Linked DNA regions of Homo sapiens. The protein of the gene in region 1 purifies or fractionates together with the protein of each later gene. This does not show direct contact. Each region holds a gene or a part of one and is shown in the gene's direction. Other genes may lie near its edges.

What was found.
Region 2: the proteins of PSG8 (region 1) and PEX7 purify together in Homo sapiens (affinity purification with mass spectrometry; 2 studies listed by BioGRID and IntAct, with this or other methods). This does not show direct contact.
Region 3: the proteins of PSG8 (region 1) and ITGA7 purify together in Homo sapiens (affinity purification with mass spectrometry; 2 studies listed by BioGRID and IntAct, with this or other methods). This does not show direct contact.
Region 4: the proteins of PSG8 (region 1) and EOGT purify together in Homo sapiens (affinity purification with mass spectrometry; 2 studies listed by BioGRID and IntAct, with this or other methods). This does not show direct contact.
Region 5: the proteins of PSG8 (region 1) and MCM9 purify together in Homo sapiens (affinity purification with mass spectrometry; 2 studies listed by BioGRID and IntAct, with this or other methods). This does not show direct contact.
Region 6: the proteins of PSG8 (region 1) and CELSR3 purify together in Homo sapiens (affinity purification with mass spectrometry; 2 studies listed by BioGRID and IntAct, with this or other methods). This does not show direct contact.
Region 7: the proteins of PSG8 (region 1) and GFM2 purify together in Homo sapiens (affinity purification with mass spectrometry; 2 studies listed by BioGRID and IntAct, with this or other methods). This does not show direct contact.

What each region holds. Positions count from the first base shown.
Region 1 is NC_000019.10:42,755,679-42,759,178, reverse strand, and holds part of PSG8 (pregnancy-specific beta-1-glycoprotein 8 isoform a precursor), read left to right. Parts: intron 1-237; exon of another isoform or gene 238-472; coding exon of another isoform or gene 473-563; exon of another isoform or gene 564-577; intron 578-898; coding exon 899-1,177; intron 1,178-3,500.
Region 2 is NC_000006.12:136,839,592-136,843,091, forward strand, and holds part of PEX7 (peroxisomal biogenesis factor 7), read left to right. Parts: intron 1-3,500. UniProt on the Homo sapiens protein: Receptor required for the peroxisomal import of proteins containing a C-terminal PTS2-type peroxisomal targeting signal. Specifically binds to cargo proteins containing a PTS2 peroxisomal targeting signal in the cytosol.
Region 3 is NC_000012.12:55,697,905-55,701,404, reverse strand, and holds part of ITGA7 (integrin alpha-7 isoform 2 precursor), read left to right. Parts: coding exon of another isoform or gene 1-26; exon of another isoform or gene 27-55; coding exon of another isoform or gene 56-79; intron 80-250; coding exon 251-506; intron 507-518; exon of another isoform or gene 519-839; intron 840-1,011; coding exon of another isoform or gene 1,012-1,143; exon of another isoform or gene 1,144-1,378; coding exon of another isoform or gene 1,379-1,415; coding exon 1,416-1,535; intron 1,536-2,487; coding exon 2,488-2,695; intron 2,696-2,828; coding exon 2,829-3,022; intron 3,023-3,378; coding exon 3,379-3,467; intron 3,468-3,500. UniProt on the Homo sapiens protein: Integrin alpha-7/beta-1 is the primary laminin receptor on skeletal myoblasts and adult myofibers.
Region 4 is NC_000003.12:69,007,185-69,010,684, reverse strand, and holds part of EOGT (EGF domain-specific O-linked N-acetylglucosamine transferase isoform a precursor), read left to right. Parts: intron 1-824; 5' UTR 825-838; coding exon 839-1,048; intron 1,049-2,156; coding exon 2,157-2,257; intron 2,258-2,863; coding exon 2,864-2,972; intron 2,973-3,500.
Region 5 is NC_000006.12:118,928,660-118,932,159, reverse strand, and holds part of MCM9 (DNA helicase MCM9), read left to right. Parts: intron 1-421; 5' UTR 422-436; coding exon 437-740; intron 741-3,481; coding exon of another isoform or gene 3,482-3,500. UniProt on the Homo sapiens protein: Component of the MCM8-MCM9 complex, a complex involved in the repair of double-stranded DNA breaks (DBSs) and DNA interstrand cross-links (ICLs) by homologous recombination (HR).
Region 6 is NC_000003.12:48,638,887-48,642,386, reverse strand, and holds part of CELSR3 (cadherin EGF LAG seven-pass G-type receptor 3 precursor), read left to right. Parts: coding exon 1-29; intron 30-377; coding exon 378-536; intron 537-862; coding exon 863-1,063; intron 1,064-1,827; coding exon 1,828-2,713; intron 2,714-3,500. UniProt on the Homo sapiens protein: Receptor that may have an important role in cell/cell signaling during nervous system formation.
Region 7 is NC_000005.10:74,725,618-74,729,117, reverse strand, and holds part of GFM2 (ribosome-releasing factor 2, mitochondrial), read left to right. Parts: intron 1-2,991; coding exon 2,992-3,177; intron 3,178-3,362; coding exon 3,363-3,478; intron 3,479-3,500.

The sequences.
Region 1 (3,500 bases):
GTCTAATATCCACCAAACACATATGGTCCATGAGGGCCAGACTTCCATCATCTGTTCATGTTCGCCCTTTCCACCAGTCGGTTCTGCATTTGCAAACATCCACATGTATTTCCAAAAAGATCCACATGGTCCTCACCTGCCCTCTACAGGGGGAAGGGAGCATCATGGATCCAGAACAGGGAACGTGGTCTTGGTCCAAAGCTATCAGTTCTTGCCTGTCCCCTTCACTCTCTGTAGGTCATTCCTTGGACTCTGCTCTATCTTTAGAGGTCACTGGCTCAAGTCAGCCACTATGAGACACCTGGGAAAACTGCGCCACCTTGTGGCTCCACTGCCTGATGACTGAACTGACCTCCGGACTTGACTCTGTTCTCCCCTGTGTTATTTCTGCTGAAGTACCCAGTCCCAGGCCAGGCTTTCCAGTACCCAAAGGGTTTAAAGACAATTGGAAGTTCCATCACCCATCTCTAGGATGTCCTTGGCAAGGGAAGCTGCAGAGAAAACATACCTTGGGCGGCAAAGTAAGACTGAAACTAAGAAGATTCCAGCACTGCATGCTCCAAGTGAGGACCACAAGGTGGGCCAGGCAGGCAGTTGGAGACGGAGGGACTCAGAGAGGCAACAGGGGCTGTGACTGCTGGTCCTGTGTCTTTCCATGACCCAATGCTGCTGCTCAATTCACACTTGAGAAAGTCTGTGTTTCTACATGAAGCAGGCAGCCTCACAACCTCTGAGCCCTCAGATTGCCCTGCATCTGTCTTGCAACACACACACCTGCCATGGGCTTTTAAGGACTTGGGTGGGCTGAGAGGTGGGAAATGCCAACTCTGATTGAAAAATGCCTTTGGAGGAATCAAAGGTGCCACACAGGGCAATCTTCTCTCTGTTTTCTGCACAGTGGAGACTCCCAAGCCCTCCATCTCCAGCAGCAAATTAAACCCCAGGGAGGCCATGGAGGCTGTGAGCTTAACCTGTGATCCTGAGACTCCGGACGCAAGCTACCTGTGGTGGATGAATGGTCAGAGCCTCCCTATGTCTCACAGGTTGCAGTTGTCTGAAACCAACAGGACCCTCTTTCTATTGGGTGTCACAAAGTACACTGCAGGACCCTATGAATGTGAAATACGGAACCCAGTGAGTGCCAGCCGCAGTGACCCATTCACCCTGAATCTCCTCCGTGAGTATTTTCTGTTCCTCTGTGAGCCAGGCTGCCATCCCAAATACACGTGGCCAGAGACCAGGCCTCTCAGTCCCTCTCAGGTCCAAGTACAGAGACCTTTACCCCTGGACATCAAACCTGGCCATGACTTTCTGCCCCAGGCAAACCAGAGTAGGCCTAGGCTTGATCAACAATAGGAGAAAAGAGGCTGCTCCTGTCATGGGAGACTCAGCGTCCACAGCTTGTGATGGGAGAAACAGGTGAATGTCTCAGGCTCCAGATCAGTGAACACAGCTGGGATTTGGCTGGGACTTCAATGTTGTGACTTGGCTCACAGGGTCACTGTGATTGTGGTGCTTCCACAGACGAGATTTTCCCTTCCCTCTGAAAATATCGCCTGTGACATTATTCTCTTTGCTCCACATGGCCTGGATGCCCCCACCATTTCCTCCTCATACACCTATTACCATACAGGGGAAGTCCCCAAGCTCTCCTGCCTCACAGACTCTCACCCACTGGCAGAGCATTCTTGGCTGATTGATGGGAAGTTCCAGCAATCAGCACAAGTGTTCTTTATCCCCCAAATCACTAAAACATATAGAGGGGTCTATGTCTGTTTCATCCATAACTCAGCCACTGCTGGAACAAATCTCATAATCAAGAGGATCATAGTCCCTGGTAAGTGGATCCCTGGAGCATTGGCACTATGTTTTCCAGTGAAGTCTATCTAGTTATCAGGGAAGAGCCACCTGCCCTCTGCAAAGGGAGAGGGAAAATCAAAAACCCAGGACAGGGAATATGTTTCTGCTCCAAAACCACCAGCTTTTGCCTGTCCCCTTCACTCTTTCTAGATCATTCTTTAGACTATACACTAACAATGAACAATCCGAAAGGAAATTAAGGAAAGAATTTCAGTTCACATTAACATCAAAAGGAATAAAATATTTTGGAATAAGTTTAACCAAAAAGTCAAATGATTATACCCTGAAAACTACAAAAGATTGCTGAAACAAGTTAAAGACGATATCAATATATGGAAACACATTTCATTTTCATGGATTGGAGGAATCAATATTGTTAGAAAGATAATATTCCCAAAGTGAGTTGCGGATTCAATGTAACACCTAACAGAATCCCAGTAACATTTTTTGCAGAATTAGAAAACACTGTCCTAAATCTCACCTGACAGGCTCTTATTAATGACTGCCACAACAGATACACTGAGAAAAAGAGGCAACCATGAAAAGGTGGAAAGTTCTGATGACATAGAAAATAGCAATCAGCCTTCAAAGGCTTCACATCCCAAAGCCTTCAAAAATATACGAGTGAGGCATGGCCAGTATGGAATTCACCGAAAACTAATCACCAAGCTAGAAAAGTGGTGAGAGAAAAAAAAAGGGCAAGAATATCTTTGGCTTATCACCTCCCACTTTTGCCTACTAATCTGATGCTGAAAAGAAATGCTCACTGGAGCATTTTAGATTTTGAATCTTTCAGATTTGGGATGCTAAACCAGTAAGTATATGACAAATATTTCAGAATCAAAAAATGTCAGAAATCCAAAACACTTTTTGTCCTAAGTCTTATGCATAAGAAATACTCAATTTGTGTGAACTATAGGCATCAAGCTCTACAGCAGATCTCTAGAACCTCCCCACCTTGCATAAATGAAACTGCACACCCATGAACAACTTCTGATTCTCCCCACTCCCAGCTCCTGGCAACCAGCAGTCTCTTCTCATATTCACTCTGGAATCCACTTACATGAGGTCCCTAGAGTAGTCGAATCCAGGGAATCAGAGAGTAGAATGTCCAGTGAAAGAAAATATTCCCAAAACTTCTCTTCAAATTTGTCTCATATCCATCAAACACACATGGTCCATGAGGACCAGATTTCCAGCAGATCCTTCCCACCCTTTCTACCAGTCAGTGCTGCATTTGCAAATGTCCACATATATTTCTGGAAAGATCCACATGGTCCTCACCTGCCCTCTGCAGAAGGAGAGGAAACTTGAACGCAGGACAGGCAACATAGTTCTGCTCCAAAGCCACCAGCTCTTGCCTGTCGCCTTCACTCTTTCTAGATCATTCCTTGCACTCTGCTCTATCTTTAGAGGTCACTGGTTCAAGTAAGTCATCATGAAACACCTGCAAAAAACTGCCCCACCTTGAGCCTCCACTGCCTGATGACTGAACTGACCTCCAGGCTTGATTCTGGTCTCCCCTGTGTTATTTCTGCTGAAACATCCAGTCCCAGGCCAGGCTGCTCAGTATCTTCAGGGTTTCAGGACCATGGGTAGTCCCATCATTACTCATCTCTAGAATGTCCTTGGAAATGGAA
Region 2 (3,500 bases), on another chromosome or scaffold:
AGTCAGGCACTGCATATCTCTCTTCCTTTTTATATTTAATTTGACCATTTGCCATGCCCACTATTTGAGTGGGTGTGGACGGGGAGGTTGGGAATAAGGAAGAGATGGAAGAGGAGACTAATAGAAGATGTGCTTTTCATTCAGATTTGTTTCTCTTTTCCTTCATTCATTCCAGAAACTTTTATTAACTCTACTGTGTGCAAGATACTGTACCAGGCTAGCTGGGAAGACAAAACACCTTAGGCATGCCCTTACCCTCCTGGGGTCCTTGCACTGTCTGGGGAGGCAGGATTCTGGTTGTCTAATGTCTAATGTGGTAAGCGCTGTGAATGTATGCAGTGTTATGGGAAGGGAGGATTTGTCTGGGGAAGGGGCAGGGAGGGCATCCTTTGGTCTAAAGGGGAAGTTGGAATGAATTATTCAAGTGGAGAGGCCAGGGTAGTAGTGTTAGAGGCAAATGAAAGAGCATGCTTGACCAGAGAGGATAGAGCCTGTGTGCTTAGAGCTGTCAGCGTTTTGGCCATTGTGCCAAGATCAGTGGAAAGACATTGCAGATTTTAAAAATCAATGAAATATTTTATACATTATAAAATACATGTAAGATGTAAAAATGGTATATTGAACACACATATTCACCATCTAGCTTAAGAAATGAAACATTACCTATACCATTAGCGTCCCCTGCTTACCCTTTCTAGTCTTATCGTTCTTCTCTCTGCTTTTTTTTCTTCCTCGCTTCTTCCCAGGAGTAACCACTAGCCTGAATTTTCTATTTATATATTTTTTGCTTTTCTTTCTATTTTTACTACATATGTATGCATCCCTAAGTCATGCATAGTTTTGCATGATTTTGACCTTTGGGTAGTAAGAATCAGCATGGATGAATCTCACATAATGTTGAGCGAAGATGCTAAGTTGGAGCTACATATAGTGTGAAACCACTGAAAGGCTTTGCACAGGGGAGTGACATTTAATTTGTATTTTCTAAAGATTACTTTTTATGCAGTGTGGATAATGGATTGGAGGTAAACAAAAATGGATGGGGAGAGCAGTTAGAAGGATGTTATAATCTAAGTGGTAACTTATGGTTGATGGTTGTAACCTCTTAAGAGAAATCATAGACAAATTCTTAGCCATAGCCCTTTAGGATCTTATCCCTCCCAGCTATTCAACCTTGCTCTTCCCTGAATCTGGCAAGCTTGTTCCCTGTTAAGGTCTTTCCCTGTTCTCTGTAACCTGAGCCTTTCATCTCGGGTCTGCAGAGTTCAGTCTTTAACTGCACTCAAGTCTCTGCACAGAGAGGTCTTTCCTGGCCATTTTGTTGAGAAGTGACCCCCTGCCCTTGTCATTATTTTCTGTTCTCCTTACTCTGCTTTTTCTTTGTAGTTTTTAAAAAAATTGCAACTTGAAATTATACATTTATTTATAGCATGTTTGCTGCTGCTAAAATATAAGATCCATGGGGGCTGGTCTTATCTAAAATTGTAACCTCCTTTCCCCCCGTGCCTAGTACATAGTAGGTGCTCAATAAATATTTGTTGAATAGATGAGTGAATTGATTGAAGTTGGGATAATGGAATTCATTCTTCCCTTTTCAGCTGTTTCTCAAACATCTCTCTGGCTGTGAACTTTTTTCAGAGCTTGAGGTTAATGCCCAAACCCTGTCTTGCTGTCACCTCAAACTCAGTATATATAAAATTACATTATTTTCCTTCCTCCAGTCTTTCACTTTTGTTAATGCTGCCATCACTGACAGTCCTCAGGCACAAAACCTTGGTGTTATCTTGCAGTGTTCACTACCCCCGATCCCTAGGGTGCTGTATATTCCCATTTATGTGTTTGAGGAAGTTTTCTGGTTACTGTTTCACCTCTGCTTTTTGCCTATTGACATTTTAGCCAGCCCTCAGGGCCCTGCCTCAGTCTTTCTCTTCTGAGCACGAAGCTGAATTTCCATCCAAGCACCCCTTTTGTACTTATGTTTATAGTTTGTTTTGTTTTGTTTTTGAGACAAGGTCTTTCTCTGCTACCCAGGCTGGAATGCAGTGGCGTGATCACTGCTCACTGCTGTCTTGACCTTGACCTTGTGGGCTCAAGCCATCCTCCCACCCCAGCCTCCTGGGTAGCTGGGACTACTGTTATAGGTCACCACACCTGGCTAATTTTTAAAATTTTTTATAGAGACGGGGGTCTCGCCATATTTTCCAGGCTGGTCTCGAACTCGTGGCCTCAAGCGGTCCTCCTGCCTCGGCCTCCCAAAGTGCTGGGATTACAGGCATGAGCCACCGTGCCTGGTGTAATTACTCTTTTTTTAAATTAAAAAAAAAAACCCACACAGTCTCCTGATCTGTTAGTTCCTTTCCCATGTCCTAATATTTTAAACATAGTATTGAGTTGCCTTTCTTTTCTTTTTCTTTTTTTTTTTTTTGAGACAGGTTCTCACTCTGTCACCCAGCTTAAAGTGCAGTGGCACAATCTTGGCTCACTACAACCTCCACCTCCTGGGAGCGATTCTCCTGCCTCAGCCTCCTGAGTAGCTGAGACTGCAGGTGCCTGCCATCACACCTGGCTAAATTTTATATGTTTAGTAGAGACGGGGTTTCACCATGTTGGCCAGGCTGGTCTTGAACTCCTGGCCTCAAGTGACCTGCCCGCCTTGGCCTCCCAAAGTGCTGGGATTACAGGCGTGAGCCACCACACTCAGCCTATTTCCTTCTTTATGATCCCATTTTTAACTTCACCACCATGTGTGTCCTATCTTTAGCTCTGTCATAGAGACCTAATGCTTGCTACTTGGTTGTGCAACAGAAGACAGCTGACAGCAACAATGCCATCAGCATGGTTTTCTTACCTTCTATCTTTGATGTTGATTCAGGCTGGATTCTCTTGAGCCGGTGGAGGCTCCTGCAGTTTTAGAAGGTGAGTAGTCATAAGGTGTCACCTGCTGCATCACACTGGAAATGTGTGGAGGCAGTGGAGTCTGAGCTGATGATGAGTATTTACTTAGTAGTTCTCTGTACCTACCTAGCAGTGATTCAGGTTGTAAAGAAAAATTTAATTGGTTAAATTATTTTAACCAATGTTTGAGTGCCTATTTTACTGTGATGAACATAGATGTACAAGATGTTTTGCTCATTAGGAGTCTCCAAAATCTAGCAGGTATGTGAGTTATGTAACATTCTTTTTAGTAAATAAAATATGGTAAATGCTGAGTTAGAAGTAGGTGTGAGCTGCTGTTGAAGGCAGCATATGACTCATTGAAGGACTTATCAGGGGAGGCTTATTTCGTAAGGGATGTAATGGGGCACGTCTTGATGGATAAATGGAAATTCACAAGTGGAGAGGGGCTTTAAGATCTGTGTATAGGTAATTCATGAAAACACAGTGGAATCAATCTAGGCCCAAATGTAGCTCCAGTAAAGGGTGAAACCAGCAGGGGTAGAGCTTTAGTTCCTTGATATCATGGCTTAAGGTAGCCAAGAAGTTCTGATTCAACAGTGCCC
Region 3 (3,500 bases), on another chromosome or scaffold:
GGAGATCTCCATTTGAGGGCAAGGAAGTGGGTGCAGACAGGTTGCTGGGTTATGCATGGACCTGTGTAACACTGGCAGGGTAATGGTGCTTGAGTGGTGCCGGCATAGGGGTGTGTGTGTATGTGTGCATGTGCATGTGCATGTGAGCACACATGTATCAGTATCTGCCAAATCTCTGCATATGGGCAGCATGCCTCAAGCAGGTCCCTGGCCCACAGAGTGAAATGATCCCCATCCCTTCCTCCCCCAGACCTGTGCACACCGATATGAGGCAAGGCAGCGAGTGGACCAGATCCTGGAGACGCGGGATATGATTGGTCGCTGCTTTGTGCTCAGCCAGGACCTGGCCATCCGGGATGAGTTGGATGGTGGGGAATGGAAGTTCTGTGAGGGACGCCCCCAAGGCCATGAACAATTTGGGTTCTGCCAGCAGGGCACAGCTGCCGCCTTCTCCCCTGATAGCCACTACCTCCTCTTTGGGGCCCCAGGAACCTATAATTGGAAGGGTGAGTCACTCCTCGGGAAGGGGAGAAGGGGACCAAAACCTCCTCTTACCTCAGAGACAGGGTTGGGGATGGCACATGGCCAAGCATGACCACATGTGCACTGCTGTATGGCCCCAGGGCACTGCCATGCCTTCCACCCCATTGAGCTAGTGCACACATGAATGGGGGGTGCCTCCTTTCCCTCGCACGGCCAAGTGTTCCTCAACATGCTGGCATGGGCCCCAAGTGCACGCTGGGCCTGCAGCTGGGGCCTGCATGCTCCAACACACTAGCCCACACCTCATCACTGCCATTCCCGTCTCCGCACGCTGCTGCTGGCTGAGCTGACACTCGGTGAGTGTGATGCCACATCTGGGGGACCCCAGGAAGCCTGGGTTGGGGACAGGGTGGGGAGAGGGCTAGAAAGAAGAGGCAGGGCTTCCCCGTGTGCCTGTCTAACTCAGTGTCCGGCCTGAGGGGTGTTCCTTGCGCCCTGCCCTGGGCACTAACAGGTCTGTCCTTGCAGGCACGGCCAGGGTGGAGCTCTGTGCACAGGGCTCAGCGGACCTGGCACACCTGGACGACGGTCCCTACGAGGCGGGGGGAGAGAAGGAGCAGGACCCCCGCCTCATCCCGGTCCCTGCCAACAGCTACTTTGGTAGGGACCTCTCCCCGGCCCAGAACTGCTCTAACCCTCTGCTCCTCTCTCTTGTCCTCTCTCTCCATGCTCCCATCCTTCTGTCTCTGTTTCTGTCTCTCACCTTGTCTCTCTCTGTCTTTCTGTCTCTGGCTGTGATCTCTCTGGTCTCTTTTTCTCTCTCCACCTCTTCTTCTTCCACCATTTTCTGGCCTTTCTGTGGCTCTGTCTCCCTACTCTGTGGCCCCTACTCTGGATGTCCCCTCCCTGGTGTCTCACCCCACCCCCCACAGGGTTGCTTTTTGTGACCAACATTGATAGCTCAGACCCCGACCAGCTGGTGTATAAAACTTTGGACCCTGCTGACCGGCTCCCAGGACCAGCCGGAGACTTGGCCCTCAATAGCTACTTAGGTTTGTAAGCTCCCACCTCCTGGACTCTAGGGGCATGGCCCAGCCTCCCCTCCTTCCCCAGGGAACTCGACCTTTGGTGCCTTATAATCTCCTCCTCCCCCAACACACACCCAGGGAGACATACATTGGGCCCAAATTGCAGAGAAGAGCTGGGTCCAATGATCAGGCCTAAGAGGAGGAGGCCCCCAGGGTGGTGGCCTCTGGGGCTGTGAGCCAGGGGTCTCCATGGAGGAAGATTCAGGTGGAATGAGAGGGCCAGGGCTGAGGATATTTTGGGAAGGACAGTCCTGTCTTCTAGGGGGACTTTCCCTGAGGGGATGGATGGTGGGCACATATTGAAGAAAGGGCTAATGTTGTTGGTAAGTCCCTCTCGTTGTCTCATCTGCATTCCTCTGCAGAGGAGGAGGAAACCAGGCCTGGGAGATGTTTGGGTGAAGCAGGCGCTCTCTCACTCCCCCTTGTCTCCCCCTCATCCATGTGAAGACTTCCCCTCCCTGCCAGGATGAGGGAGTTGGGGGAAAGAGGTGCACTGGGTGGGATTCGGGCCTGAGAGGGACCTCTAGCTCTTCTAGCTCCCTGGGTGTGGGCAGGGTGAGGCCACTGTGCTCAGCCTCCTACCTGGGCTCCTGGCCTTCTCAGCCATCACCTTTCTCTCTCTTGCCCAGTCCCTGAGGCTGACCTCACTGCACTTTTTGTGCCAAGCTTGTCTCTGGGCCTGGTGGGTGTGGGAGGCTGCCAGGCCCTGTGGGGAGGAAGAGCTATCCAGCTGTGGTGCTGATGACTTGGGGGGACCTATCTTTTGGCTCTTAACCTAGGGGAGGGGGCAGGGTGCAGGGGAGCTGTGACTTGGCTCTTAACCTGTAGGGAGGGGGCAGGGGCTGGGGGAGCTGTGACACACCCCAGCTTCTGAGTCTTGGGGTGAAGACTTAGGGGTAAGTCACCCTTCCCCCAGGCTTCTCTATTGACTCGGGGAAAGGTCTGGTGCGTGCAGAAGAGCTGAGCTTTGTGGCTGGAGCCCCCCGCGCCAACCACAAGGGTGCTGTGGTCATCCTGCGCAAGGACAGCGCCAGTCGCCTGGTGCCCGAGGTTATGCTGTCTGGGGAGCGCCTGACCTCCGGCTTTGGCTACTCACTGGCTGTGGCTGACCTCAACAGTGATGGGTGAGTGGGTAGAGGGCCGTGCCACCTGAGGGAGGCTGGGTCTAGTAGCCCCAGTCTGGCTGAGGCCACTTAGCCTCCTGCTGGCTCCTCTGGCCAGGGAGGACCCACACTGAATGTTTCCCTCTCTCCATAGCTGGCCAGACCTGATAGTGGGTGCCCCCTACTTCTTTGAGCGCCAAGAAGAGCTGGGGGGTGCTGTGTATGTGTACTTGAACCAGGGGGGTCACTGGGCTGGGATCTCCCCTCTCCGGCTCTGCGGCTCCCCTGACTCCATGTTCGGGATCAGCCTGGCTGTCCTGGGGGACCTCAACCAAGATGGCTTTCCAGGTGTGACGGGGAACTGGAAAGGCTCAGGGAGGGAGGGGCCACAGGAGGGATGGGGAAGCCCCTCAGAGGTCAGGGTGTGGTCTTCTGAGGACTCAGGGAGAGAGGGTCCCTGAGCTTATGTCTGAGCTGTACCATTTACCAGCTTTCTGACCTTGGCAAGTTCCTAACCTTTTTGCGTTAGTAATATCTGCAGGGAGTGGCCAAGAGGATTAAAGATGATGTATGTAGAGTGCCTGGGATTTTGTAGCCTCTCAATAAAATAGAAAACATACCTGAGTGACTGGGGGGAGTTGAGGCCTGGATCTTGTCTGCAAGGCCCCCAGCCAGCGTGACTGCCTTTTCCCTGTGCCCTGCAGATATTGCAGTGGGTGCCCCCTTTGATGGTGATGGGAAAGTCTTCATCTACCATGGGAGCAGCCTGGGGGTTGTCGCCAAACCTTCACAGGTGAGGGGAGTCGCTGGGATGAGGGAATGGGTG
Region 4 (3,500 bases), on another chromosome or scaffold:
TTTATTTAATAAACATTTCCATAGCATTTAGCATGTGCCAGATAGTTTTCGAAACACTTTACCAATAACTAACTCATTTAACTCATGACAGCTCTATGATGAAGGTTTATTATTATTTCCATTTTACAGATGGGAAAGCTTAGGTGCAGAAAGGTTAAGTAACTTGTTCCAGGTCTTACAGCTGGGAAGCTGCAGATTTGCGATTCAAATCCAGGTGGTTAAGCTTTAAATGTTCACCATGCTATGTTGTCTATCATATTACTTTATTTAGTTTCAGGTATCACTAAACTGGATCCTATCAAGCCCTTCCATAATTTTTGTAAGTTAAAAAGTTTTATTGGAACACAGCCTCATCCATTCTTTTATAATAGACCATGGCTACTTTTTTGGACAGAGGCATTGTTGTGTAGTTGCCACAGAGATCTTATGTCTGGCAAAGCCAAAAATATTTACTGCTTCTCCTTTACAGGAAAAGTTTGCTGGCCCCTAGTTGGTTTGATTCACAGGCCCAGTCATCAGCTGAAGTTGTTTATTTGATTGCTTGTTTATGACAGTTGTAGTAGGTTTAAAGGCACCATGAGAGCAAGGCTCTTTCTTGTTTTGTTCACCTCTGTATACCCATTTGCTAACGTGGTGCCTGGCACCAAGCAAGTGCTCAAAAAAAATTGAATAAAGGATCATTATTCAGTGGGATAGCAAAGTGCTTTGTAATTATACTTAGCCCTTGACCCTTTGTTTTTTTTTTTTTTTTGTTGTTGTTGTTGTTGTTGTTTTGGCTTTTAAAGGAAATTTGTTAACAAAGTTGTCTTCATTTTGATCTCTAGGTTTGCAGGTTGCTATGTTAATGTTGTTTGTCTTTGGAGTCTTACTTCATGAAGTCTCACTGAGTGGTCAGAATGAAGCTCCTCCTAATACTCACAGCATTCCAGGCGAACCTCTGTATAACTATGCCAGCATCCGCTTGCCAGAGGAGCACATTCCCTTCTTTTTGCACAACAATAGGCATATTGCCACTGTCTGTAGGAAAGACTCTCTTTGTCCATATAAGGTAGGTATTATTTCTTTTCTCCTTATTTTTATGAGGATGCAATTTCAGCTGGCTTACAGGTTCTGCTTTATAACCTGAAACTGAAGGCAGAATTCTAATTTTCGGTTGTCACTGTATAAGTTAATCATTGTTTCATATAATACTTCTAAGTGACTAAACTGCTTAAAATTATGTCCCATTCATAAGAGAGAAATTTAAAATCTAAATCACTTCTAAAACAAATAAGTAGCCAATACTATTTGTAAACTCTGTAAAGAAGCAATTAGATTTTATGCAGGAAAGAACATCTTGTTAAAAGTAACTAAAGAATTTCACACCTCTTCTTTCTTAAACGGCACATGAGAGGATCGGTTAGCACTTAATTTCAGTAATAACACCTCAGCCTCTGTCTCCACATAATTAAGCCTGTTACTGTGGCTTTCTTTCTGTTTTAGAGGAGTTGGAAAGGCCTCAAATAGGAGCCCATTAAGACATCTCACAGGGCCCCAGAGATCAAAGCTGGGCATTGTGAGACACTTCCTTTCCCATGGTGCTGGCACAGGAAGCATATGGAAAAGCAGACTTGGGAATCAGACCAGCATTGCTCCTGGGGCCTTGCAGAAGAGCATTCTCAACTCCTTGGCCAGCAGCAGCTGGGTGGTTCCCAAGGGTGGCAGAGTTGTCCATGTGTTGTGGGGTCTCTGCTGATCTTGATTGCTAAGTGAAGTTGCTGATTGATTCAGTTTAGCTGTGATTCCTTTGGTAGCACAAATTCCAGTTTATATGTCTTTTAGGGACTGATTTTAGAATCCGCTTGCTCACTGAGAAAGGTGGTTTCTTAAGCTACTTCAAGAAATTCAAATTCAAGTGGTCTTTGAGCGTCTAGGTAAAGCCCAGACTTTCGGTTAGGGGACCGATATGGTGGGGGTGATGAGTAAGGAGGATTGTTAAGAACCTTGAGACTGCTCTTTTTAGAATTAACTGTAAGTTTTAAATTTATTGTTATAAGAATACGTATTATAAATGTAAATGTGAATGCTCTATAATGATTTGTTTTCTTAATGGAAAAATCTAAGAGTCTTCTCTAAATGTCAGAAGAAGGGAAATCAATGTAAGTTTTATGTTCTAGAAACACCTAGAGAAGCTAAAGTACTGCTGGGGTTATGAGAAATCCTGCAAACCAGAGTTCAGGTTTGGTTACCCAGTTTGCAGCTATGTCGACATGGGATGGTAAGTTTCCATATGGAATACCCTCTTCAAGTCTTCCTCTTTCTATACAGTGTATGTTGATGCCCTAATTTCCAGCTAGATTCTTTTGGTTTTAGATAGTAATTCATTTAGATATTAATTTGCTTGCACAGTCATGAATTCAACTTGACTATTTCATACTGGGATAGGAATATCTGTCATTTCCTCTGCCAGAGGGAGAAACAGCCAGGACCATAGATAATTTTTTCCCCCAGTGTATAGTAAGAAGATAAATGGATGGTTTCTTCTTGATTCTTCCTGGGAGAATTAAGTATAATTAGTACTTCCAATACATGCAATGTTAATGAGGTAAAGAAAATATAGTAATTAAGAATGCATCATTGGCTTCAGTTTCAGGTGATAACTTCATACATGTCTGTTATGTATTTTATGATAAAGGAATAATTCTGTGAATAACTTAGTTTCGTAACTTCATGTAGTGAGGCGTAGTTTTGGAAAAACTATGATAATATACTGTAACAAAATTAAAGTAATAAGGAACCTCTAGCATTTTAACCTTTAGAATGAAAATTCAAGGTCCAAAAAAGTAAAAAGAAAAAAACACAGAATATTTTTATTTGCAAATAGGACGGACACTCTTGAGTCAGCTGAGGACATATTTTGGAAACAAGCTGACTTTGGATATGCCAGAGAGAGGCTGGAGGAGATGCATGTGCTCTGTCAGCCTAAGGAAACGGTGGGTATTTTGCTCCTTACTAAATAAACTTGTTTATTTAATTTTAATTTTATTTATTTTTGAGACGGAGTTTCTGTCTATTGCCCTGGCTGGAGTGCAGTGGCGCGATCCCAGCTCACTGCAACCTCTGCCTCCCAGGTTCAAGGAATTCTCCTGCTTCAGCCTCCTGAGTAGCTTGGATTACAGGCGCGTGCCACCCCCCCCCGCTAATTTTTATATTTTTAGTAAAGGTGGGGTTTCGCCATGTTGCCAGGCTGATCGCGAACTCCTGACCTCAAGGGATCCACCCACCTCAGCCTCCCAAAGTGCTGGGATTACAGGCGTGAGCCACTGTGCCCAACTAAGCTATTTTATTTTTATTACTTATTATTGATTTTTAATATTTATCATTTAGCTTGTAATGTAAAAACAAGATAGACGGCACTATGAAAGGAATTCCTCACTCTCACTTAGTTATTGGCATAGAATTTTATGTAACTTCCCCAAATAGGTTGTTTTCTTTCCTTTGGAAACCCTGTCCTCCTTATC
Region 5 (3,500 bases), on another chromosome or scaffold:
ACAATGGTATCTATGTATCTAAGCATAGAAAAGATACAATAAGGATACAGTATTGTAATCTTATGAGACCACTATTATAAGTGCAGTCCGGAAATGTTGTTAGGTGCATGCCTGTATATTAATGCAGGGTTAATATGAAGGAAATTTGGGGAAAAGATGGGAAATGCTTTGAACTATTTTGGATTTTGATAATCAGTACCAACATAGTTCTTTGACTTACATTTGACTTCACTCATTTTTGAAGTACATGTACTGTGACTGTAACAGATAATTCAGATTTCATTAAGATTTGAATTCAGATATTATTTTGTGATTATAGTATGACCCAAAGCCAGTGTGATTTATAACCAATCGTTTTTGTTAAATTGTGTGTACATCTTGAGTATCAAATATATAATATGATCCTTTTTTTTTTCTTTAGTTACCTAGATTCAAGATGAATAGCGATCAAGTTACACTGGTTGGTCAAGTGTTTGAGTCATATGTTTCGGAATACCATAAGAATGATATTCTTCTAATCTTGAAGGAAAGGGATGAAGATGCTCATTACCCAGTTGTGGTTAATGCCATGACTCTGTTTGAGACCAACATGGAAATCGGGGAATATTTCAACATGTTCCCCAGTGAAGTGCTTACAATTTTTGATAGTGCACTGCGAAGGTCAGCCTTGACAATTCTCCAGTCCCTTTCTCAGCCTGAGGCTGTTTCCATGAAACAGAATCTTCATGCCAGGATATCAGGTAAATCACTTAAGGATTTTACTGCCATGCTATCTTCTAGAAAGATTTTGAGAAAATATACTAGATTTAGAACACTAAGAAATAATTGATATTTATACTTAAAATATATATCTGTTGTGTAGTTGATGGTCACTTCTTTTAGAGCAGAATAATAATTGTGTTCTGTGGGCATGAAGTATGAGTCTTGCCCACTGAGGGGAGGGAGAATGTGTGGAGACAGCAGTATACTTGTGTGTCTATATATTTCCACGTCTGTGTTTAAAAATGTAATTCAAAACAGCTTTATGAGCTTTTGTGGTTACTAACAATAAAGGAACTGGTAATACAAAGAATTAGAAAAGTGATAGATCTTGTCCAGGGATCTTCAGAACTATTTTAGGACATTAGTTATTTTTAAAGATCAGTATTAGCATTGTGCAGTCTACCTACCAGTTACTCGATACATTTTTGTTGAATGCATGACAGATAAAGCATCTTAATTGTTAAGAAACTGCAGTGGAGCAATCAGCAGCTTGGGGTGGCAAAGCTGTATCCTTGAATTCCTGCCTCTAGGAGTCCTTGCCCCTCACTTTCTGTTTTAAAAGTGATTTTTTAGTAGGATGGATAGAGTTGACTTAAGAATTTTAGGGAAAAGTGACACTATAGTGTAACAATTTTTATTTAGTTCATTGCATGGAAGTAATTTCTTGGAAGGCATAGTGTGGCGAAAGAGAAGAATTGGATTTAAAGGCTACACGCCTAACCTGGGAGACTTAGTAAGTTATTTTATCTCACTGAGCCTCAGTTTCTTCACTTGCAAACCACTTCTAGAGTCCCTGTCAACCCCCTAATTAAAACAAAATTTAACTATGCCATTATTGTATAAATTAATAAAGGCTGGTACAAATTAATTCTATTTACATGAAAGAAAGATTTGGTAAAATTAAAAGCAGGTCCAGAATATTGAGGGCAGTCTGTGATTAAGTTGGAGAACATACATACCCTTTTGTTTAAAAATAAATATTTAGCAGCCGGGCGCGGTGGCTCACGCCTGTAATCCCAGCACTTTGGGAGGCCAAGGCGGGCAGATCGCAAGGTCAGGAAATCGAGACCATCCTGGCTAACACGGTGAAACCCCGTCTCTACAAAAAATACAAAAAAAATTAGCCGGGCATGGTGGCGGGCGCCTGTAGTCCCAGCTACTCAGAAGGCTGAGGCAGGAGAATGGTGTGAACCCAGGAGGCGGAGCTTGCAGTGAGCCGAGATCGCGCCATTGCACTCCAGCCTGGGCAACAGAGCGAGACTCCGTCTCAAAAAATAAAATAAAATAAAATAAATAAATAAATAAATAAATATTTACCTTATAGTACATTTGAGAAGAGTGGTGATTTATAATCAATAAGAATGCTTCCTGAATTCCAAAAAGGTTTGGAGTCACTATAGTAGAACTTCTTGGAGGCAAGTTAAGATTCCCAAAAAGACCAAATACTTAATTTAAATGAAAAATATTGTCTGCAGTTACACTTGCTAGGATAAATTATGAAGAGTATTAATCATTATGCATCAGGGTACTAGATAATCTCTTGATGGGATCAAGAAAAAGGGTCCCCCCCATCAGCCTTTTTTAAAAATTAGAGATGGAGTCTCACTCTGTTACCCGGGCTGGTATTAAACTCCCAAGCTCAAGTGATCCTCCTCCTCTGGCCTCCCAAAGTGTTGGGATTATAGATGTGAGCCATCGTGTCTGGCCAATGTTTCCTATTAATAAGTTTGCAAAAGGATTATTAAGGGGGACTTTAGTTAATGTTGTCGAAATGCTATTTAGGAAATAGTTTTAGGCTGCCATTATTTTCAGATACCTTTCCATACTGAGTTTAAGTAATACAATCCTGTCTGCCTAAGTGACCCTATCAGTTTCAGGTGAATTTAGCTTATTTTTTCAATTCTCTGAAAAAGTAAGTTACAAATTATGTTACTACTGAACAAAACATCAGTAGGCATTTGCTAGGATCTTGGGAAACCAAAAAGAATATAGTTTTTCCCTCCTTTAAAAAACTCAGGGCTGTATGGCAGACAGCTATATAGTCAAATATTTACCAGATGGTGTATGCATGCCTACAGATACATGTGTATGTATATATTAAGCATTATTGTATGGGAGCTTAATGGAAACTTTTATGTGTGATGCATGCCTCACTCAAGGTATGTTGTTTTTGTTTTTGAGACAGAGTCTTGCTCTGTTGTCCAGGCTGGAGTCCAGTGATGCAATCTTGTCTCACTGCAACCTCTGCCTCCTGGGTTCAAGCAATCCTCCTGCCTCAGCCTCCCAAGTAGCTGGGATTACAGGCATGTGCCACCATGCCCAGCTAATTTTTGTATTTTTGGTAGAGACAGAGTTTTGCCATGTTGCTCAGGCTGGTCTTGAACTCCTGGCCTCAGGTGATCTGCCCACCTTGGCCTCCCAAAGTGCTGGGATTGCAGGCATGAGCCATGGTGCCCGGCCAGAATTAATGTTTAAATAGCGCTTGCTGTATGCCGAGTAATATTTTCAGAAACTTTACATGTATGAATTCTTTTTTTTTTTTTGAGACAGGGTCTCACTCTGTTGCCCAGGCTGGAATGCAGTTGCACAACAATCATAGCTCACTGCAGTCTCTAACTTCTGGGCTCAAGCGATCCTCCCACCTCAGCCTCCTGGGTAGCTGGGACTACAGGCATGTGCCACCACACTCAGCTATTTAAATTTTTTTTTTTTTTTGTAGAGGTGGGGTCTCTGTGTTG
Region 6 (3,500 bases), on another chromosome or scaffold:
GGACGTGGCCATGTTCCATCGAGATGCTGGTGGAGTTGGGGCCTGGGGCAGGGAGGAGGGAGGCAGAGGATCTCTCCCCATCCCCTTTTCTTCTACCCCATACTGGGAGCAGTGGCTGACTGGGGTGGGACGATCTCCCCCAGGGTCCCTGCCTCAGGAGGCACCTACCTCTCCAGCCCTGGTTCTCCCAGTCCACTCCTGATTCGTCCTTCCCTCTGATAAGTCCCAGCCCTTCTGCTGCTACCTCCACTTCAAGCCCCGGTTCCTGTCCCCAACCCTAACCCCCTTGCCGTACCCACCTCTAGACCCTCAACTCCAAATTCCCTTATCTCCAAGTCCCTTACCTCTGAAAGTACTTCTGACTTTCCCAACTCCAGGCGCAGACTCCGACTCTGACAGTGACCTGTCCTTGGAGGAGGAGAGGAGTCTCTCCATTCCATCTTCAGAAAGCGAGGACAATGGCCGGACGCGGGGGCGCTTCCAACGGCCACTCTGCCGAGCAGCCCAGAGTGAGAGGCTCCTCACCCACCCCAAAGGTGCCAGGCGCCCTCTGACCCCTTGGGTGACCAAGGGATGCCCCATTTGTTATCCCTCCAGCTCCCCATCTTTCCTGCGGTTGGGGTTCATCCTGGTCTTTCTGACCCCTCAGTCATCAGGTTCCCCAACTTTTAGTCTCTGTCCACCTCCAGTTAAGGGGAGGGAGCTCACCAGTCACCCCCACCCATTGATCTCTGAGGAGATACCCTCCTGTTCCCACCTCTGCTCAATGAGAACAGCCAGGGTTTCAAGGGTCATTAGGGTCAGGGGTCATGAGTCACTGGGATCAACCCAGAAGCTCCTGTAACCTGACCTGGCTCCACAGATGTGGATGGCAATGACCTCCTGTCCTACTGGCCAGCCCTGGGGGAGTGCGAGGCAGCCCCCTGTGCTCTGCAGACTTGGGGCTCTGAAAGGCGCCTGGGGCTGGACACCAGCAAGGATGCAGCTAACAACAACCAGCCAGACCCGGCCCTGACCAGTGGGGATGAGACTTCTCTGGGCCGGGCCCAGCGCCAGAGGAAAGGTACAGTCCCTGAGCCCTGGCCCACACCGCAGACACGCTGGGGGCTGCTCATGCCCTGAGCCAAGGGATTGCAGCTTCCTCATCCCAAACTGAGAGCTCTTCTTACTCTGACCTAGGGCGCTTCTGCTTCTCTAGCCTGCTTCACGGTCCTCAGGGACTGCTCCTGTCCTGACCTGGGAATTCTCTGTCCCCCTCTACCCTGGCCAGCACCACAGGGGGACCACAGGCGACCACTCCTGCCCCAGCCCATCTGTTTTTCAGAGACCCTAGGAGCTGCTTCCCCCTGCCCCCCACCCAGATCCCAGAGCCCGTGCTCTGATCTGGAAGATTTCTGCCCCCTACTCTGCTTTTATGGGGACCCGGAGAAGAGGTTTCTGCCCTCACCCTTGCATCACAGGGACCTGGGGACTGCTCCTGTCCAACCCGGGGGGTTCCTGCATTTCAGCCAGGCCTGCATTGTCAGGACCTGAGGGCTGCCCCTCTTCTGACCTCAGGGAGTTTGCCCCATCCCCTGCACCATGAGACCTGCCCGCCCTCCCCCTGCCCCGGGACCACAACTGGAAGATGACTGCCCTTCCACTCTGACCCCTGTCCTGCTGCCTCTCTGGGACCACCAGGGTTGCCTCTGCTGCTCCCCAAGGGGTTCCTGCTCCCATCCCTGTGTTGGAAGGATCCCAAGGGCTGCCACACCCCTAGACTCAGCAATTCCTGCCTGCCCTCCCCCTCCCACACAAACCCTGCCCCCCATTTTCTTCCTCTCACAGGCATCCTGAAGAACCGGTTGCAATACCCACTGGTGCCACAGACCCGAGGTGCCCCTGAGCTGTCCTGGTGCCGTGCAGCCACCTTGGGCCACCGTGCTGTGCCAGCTGCCTCTTACGGTCGCATCTATGCTGGCGGGGGCACGGGCAGCCTTTCACAGCCAGCCAGCCGCTACTCTTCTAGAGAACAGCTGGACCTGCTCCTCCGGCGGCAACTGAGCCGTGAGCGACTAGAGGAAGCCCCTGCCCCTGTTCTACGTCCCCTGAGCCGGCCAGGGTCCCAGGAATGCATGGATGCTGCACCAGGCCGACTGGAGCCCAAAGATCGGGGCAGCACCCTGCCACGGAGGCAGCCACCTCGGGACTACCCTGGCGCCATGGCTGGCCGCTTCGGGTCACGGGATGCGCTCGACTTAGGGGCACCTCGAGAGTGGTTGAGCACGCTGCCTCCGCCCCGCCGCACCCGGGACCTTGACCCACAGCCCCCACCTCTGCCCCTGTCTCCCCAGCGGCAACTCTCAAGGGACCCCCTCTTGCCATCCCGGCCGCTGGACTCTCTGTCTAGGAGCTCGAACTCTCGGGAGCAGCTGGACCAGGTGCCTAGCCGGCACCCCTCACGAGAAGCCCTTGGGCCACTCCCGCAGCTGCTCAGAGCTAGGGAGGACTCGGTCAGTGGCCCCAGCCATGGCCCCTCCACAGAACAGTTGGACATTCTTTCCTCCATCCTTGCCTCTTTCAACTCCTCGGCCCTCTCCTCTGTGCAATCTTCAAGCACACCCTTGGGCCCTCACACCACTGCCACACCTTCTGCCACAGCCTCTGTGCTTGGGCCCTCCACGCCACGTTCTGCCACGTCTCACAGCATCTCGGAGCTGTCGCCAGACTCAGAGTAAGTATGGTCCAGCCACCTGCTTGCACCCTCATCAGCTTAGGGCAACCTCCTGTGTGCCCTGCCCTGTGTTCTGCCACAGAAGGGGATGAGGGCTGGCAGACAGGTGTGGGCTACCCCAGGCTCAGCACAGCCAGAGGGCCACAGGCTGGGGACAGGAATCTGGCAAGAAATGGGGGTGTGACTAGCAGGGACTTGCTGGCTGTGTGACTGGAGCCAGCCAGCCTTCCCAGCACCTCCCAGGCTAAGGAGAAATAGGTGCCATCCGATGGGCTGAGCTAGCGAATGGGAGGGCAGGAGCTGAGGCCTAGAAGTGGGAGATGACCTGGAATATGCAAGGGGCAGGGAGGAGAGCAGGAGGCCTTGCTTGGGAAGGTTCGCCTAGGGGGTCATATAGGACAAGGAGAGGCTGGAAGTGGTGCCAGGATATACCAGGCTGAAGGGCTTGCTTTGTTGAGGATAAATCATTCATTCATCGATGTATTCAGTCAACATTGAGTTCCTCCTGTCTGTGGACACTTTGGGGTGGGGCTCACAGGAACTGAGTTGGAACCTGGTTCATCTCGGGTATGTGTGAAGCATCTGTGGGGAAGGGGATGGCGGACAGACCCAGGAAATAGCTGGATACACAGGAGTCCGAGAGGGACTGGTGGGAGTGGGGAGGAACCAGGAGCTTCCAGGTCTCTTGTAAGCCAAGAGGAGAGTTGAGTTTCAAGGAGGAGAAACAGCTGGGTCAGGCTCTGGGGGTTTGTGGGGTAAGAGATGGCTTGGGGAGGAAGGGGGCCCT
Region 7 (3,500 bases), on another chromosome or scaffold:
CCAAGGAACCTGGAAAAAAGGGCTTCTCCAAAGATATCATCAACCCAGGCCTCAGATGCCACACATGGCCAGGTCTGGTGGCTCACGCCTGTAATCCCAGCACTTTGGGAAGCTGAGGTGGGCAGATCACGAAGTCTGGAGTTCGAGACCAGCCTGGCCAATATGGTGACCCCGTTTCTACTAAAAATACAAAAACTAGCTGGGAATGGTGGCGAGTGCCTATAATCCCAGCTACTCAGGAGGATGAGGCAGGAGAATTGCTTGAATCCCAGAGGCGAAGTTGCAGTGAGCTGAGATCGTGCCATTACACTCCAACCCAGGCAACAGAGTGAGACGCCATCTCAAAAAAAAAAAAAAAAAAAAAAAAAAGAAACCCCCACACATAAAAGAATATTAACTCATAATAAAATTAAATCAGAAAACCATGAGAAAAAGCACAATGAGCAAAAAGGCAATAGAAACAATAGGTAGTCATACCAGCAAAGGCTTCAGTTATTGGAATTATGAGATGTAGAATATAAAATACTATCTTTGAAGAAATAAGAGAGGCGATAGAAAGTACAGTTGACCCTTGAACAACATGGGTTTAAAGTATGTATGCAGGTACACTTACACATGGATTATTGTCCTGCCTTTGCCATCCCTCAGACAGCAAGCCAAACCCCTCCTTTTCTTACTCCTCAGGCTATTCAGTGCAAAGATGACGAGGATAAAGACCTTTATGATGTTCTACTTTTACTTAATAAATAGTAAATATATTTTCTCTTACGATTTTCTTGGTAACTTTTTTTTCTAGTTTATTGTAAAAATACAATATAAAATACATGTAACGTGTTAATTGACTGTTTATTTGTTGGTAAGTCTTCCTGTTAACAGTATTCTATAGTAGTTAAGTTTCAGGGGAGTCAAAATTTAGGCATGTATTTTTTACTGCATGGGGGTTTAGCACGCCTAGCCCCCACATTATTCAAGGGCCACTTGTGTTAGTAAGGAACAAGAAACGATCAAAAATAGGTGCGATGGGCATGATCTCACATATGTGGAACTTTTAAAAGTCTAACTTGTAGAAGAGTAGAATGATGGCTACCAGAGGCTGAGGATTGGAAAGCTGGGGAAAGGAGAGATGTTGATGAAGTGGGGTACGGAGTTTCAGCTGGACAGGAGAAATAGGTTCTCATGATCTGTTACACAGCACAGTGACTATAGTTAATAATTTATATTTTAAATCTCAGTACAAAGAAATAAGTTTTTTGACATGATAGATGTTAATTTGCCTGATTTTTATCATTCCACGATGTATACATGTATTGAAACATCACATACCCCATAAATATATACAATTATTTGTTAATTAAAAATGAAATAAAACATAAGAAAGGATAATGGAATATCATGCTATGTGTGAGAGAGGAAATGGTCAAAAAATGATGGTGAGGGGGTATATAAGGACACAGGAACCAGCTTGAAGAGACTCTGCTGGCCAAATCTGGATTAATTTGAATACCAAGTATAGACCATTGGGAAAAAATAGTTTCTAAGTTCATACTTATAATAATACATAGGTAAATAGGGAAGAAGAGGGAGGGGTCTTCCTCATAGTGGAATGCCAAGTGCTGACTGTTAGAAGTTGGGGAGTAGGGCTGGAGTCGGAAAATAGTGCAGACGACTCTCCCAAACACATAGAACAAAAAAGTTGCCGTATACATATGGCATAACAAATTTAAAATGAAGCAGAAGTAAACTATTGCTTAGAAATACATGCATATGTGATATAACACTAAAGAAAATAATGAGGATAACATATGATAGTGGTTGCTTCAGAAGGCATCTAAATATTGGTAATACTCTCTTTAGTAGTTTTAGGTTTCATGAATGCTCATTTTTAGCTTGTACATAAATATGTATATACTCATATATAAACGTATATTTATATATAAACATGTATATATTGAGACAATGTCTTGCTCTGTTGAGCAGGCTGGCATACAATGGCAAGATCTTAGCTGACTGTAGCCTTGAACTCCTGGGCTCCAGCAATCCTCCCGCCTCAGTCTCCCAAGTAGCTAGGACTACAGGTGTGCACTACCATACTCAGCTAATTTTTATTATTTTTTACAGAGACGGAGTCTTGCTATATTGCCCAGGCTAGTCTCAAATTCCTGGCCTCAAGTAATCCTCCCACTTTGGCTTCCCAAAGTGCTGGGTGGGATTACAGGTGTAAGCCACCACATCCAGCCTGTATAATTTTAAATAGAAAATGTTTCACAGTATAAAACGTAAGCATACAAAGGAATTATGAAGAATTATAGACTATAATTCTTAGTTTTGAATTTGGGCCATGAATCACTGCATTACATGGTCCCTCACATAAATATGGCATAGTTTTGTTTTAGTAAAATATTGGAGATTGGTAACAGACATAGTAAAATATTGGAGATTGTTGGTTTTTAGCAAATAAGAGATGCTGTTTTCAATCTTACCAAAAACACTTTACTGGTTTTTTGGGAAAGAAATTGTAAACAGTAAGTGCATAAAATATTGCTGGAAAAATACACAATATAAAACATTTTGTGGGTTGTCAGGATTTAAAGTCGTTTAATTTTCATTAGCTTACCTTTTATATTTGTAAAGGTTTTATCATTTAATTTTTTTAATATAAAAGTTTGTAACTAAGAGGATTTCAATCACCTACAAGACATTTTGAAAAGTTTAAAAGTATAATCTTCGTAACATGTGCCTCAACATATCTTAATGTTAAAACAATAGGTGATACAGAGCAGGTTTTTAACATTGATCAACACAGAAGCAGATGCTTTGTTGGTAGAGCTCTTTACTCTGATTTTTATACTGTATTTAGTGCCATTGTTAATATTCTCTCCCACTTTATCTTGTATGAGACCCTGAGCTTGTTGATGATAATTTTGCTGTTTATAGTACCTTGATACCTTTCCAGAATTAATCTCTGAGGTGCCATATTCAATTTGTTTACAGATACCTTAGATAGAACTTTAGGAGACAAAAGGCATCTTGTGACTGTAGAAGTGGAAGCAAGGCCAATTGAAACATCATCTGTTATGCCTGTGATTGAGTTTGAGTATGCTGAAAGTATCAATGAAGGCCTTTTGAAGGTCTCCCAAGAGGCCATTGAAAATGGAATTCACAGCGCATGTCTCCAAGGTAAGACACTCAAATGAGAGTAAGCATTAGTATCCCACTCAACCATTTAATCACTCCTTATATTACAGATTATTTCAGTCTTTTTCCTAACTTTGTTAGTGTTTTCTCCCTATTCCTTTGCACTTCTCAGTTACTTCTCACTTCACATCTAGCAGAGTATGATACAATTTTTTTCCCTTGTCTAGGACCATTGCTTGGATCCCCAATTCAGGATGTAGCAATTACTTTACATTCCCTGACAATTCATCCTGGCACCTCCACAACTATGATTTCTGCCTGTGTCTCAAGATGCGTGCAAAAGGTATAGAACTATCCTAATCCTT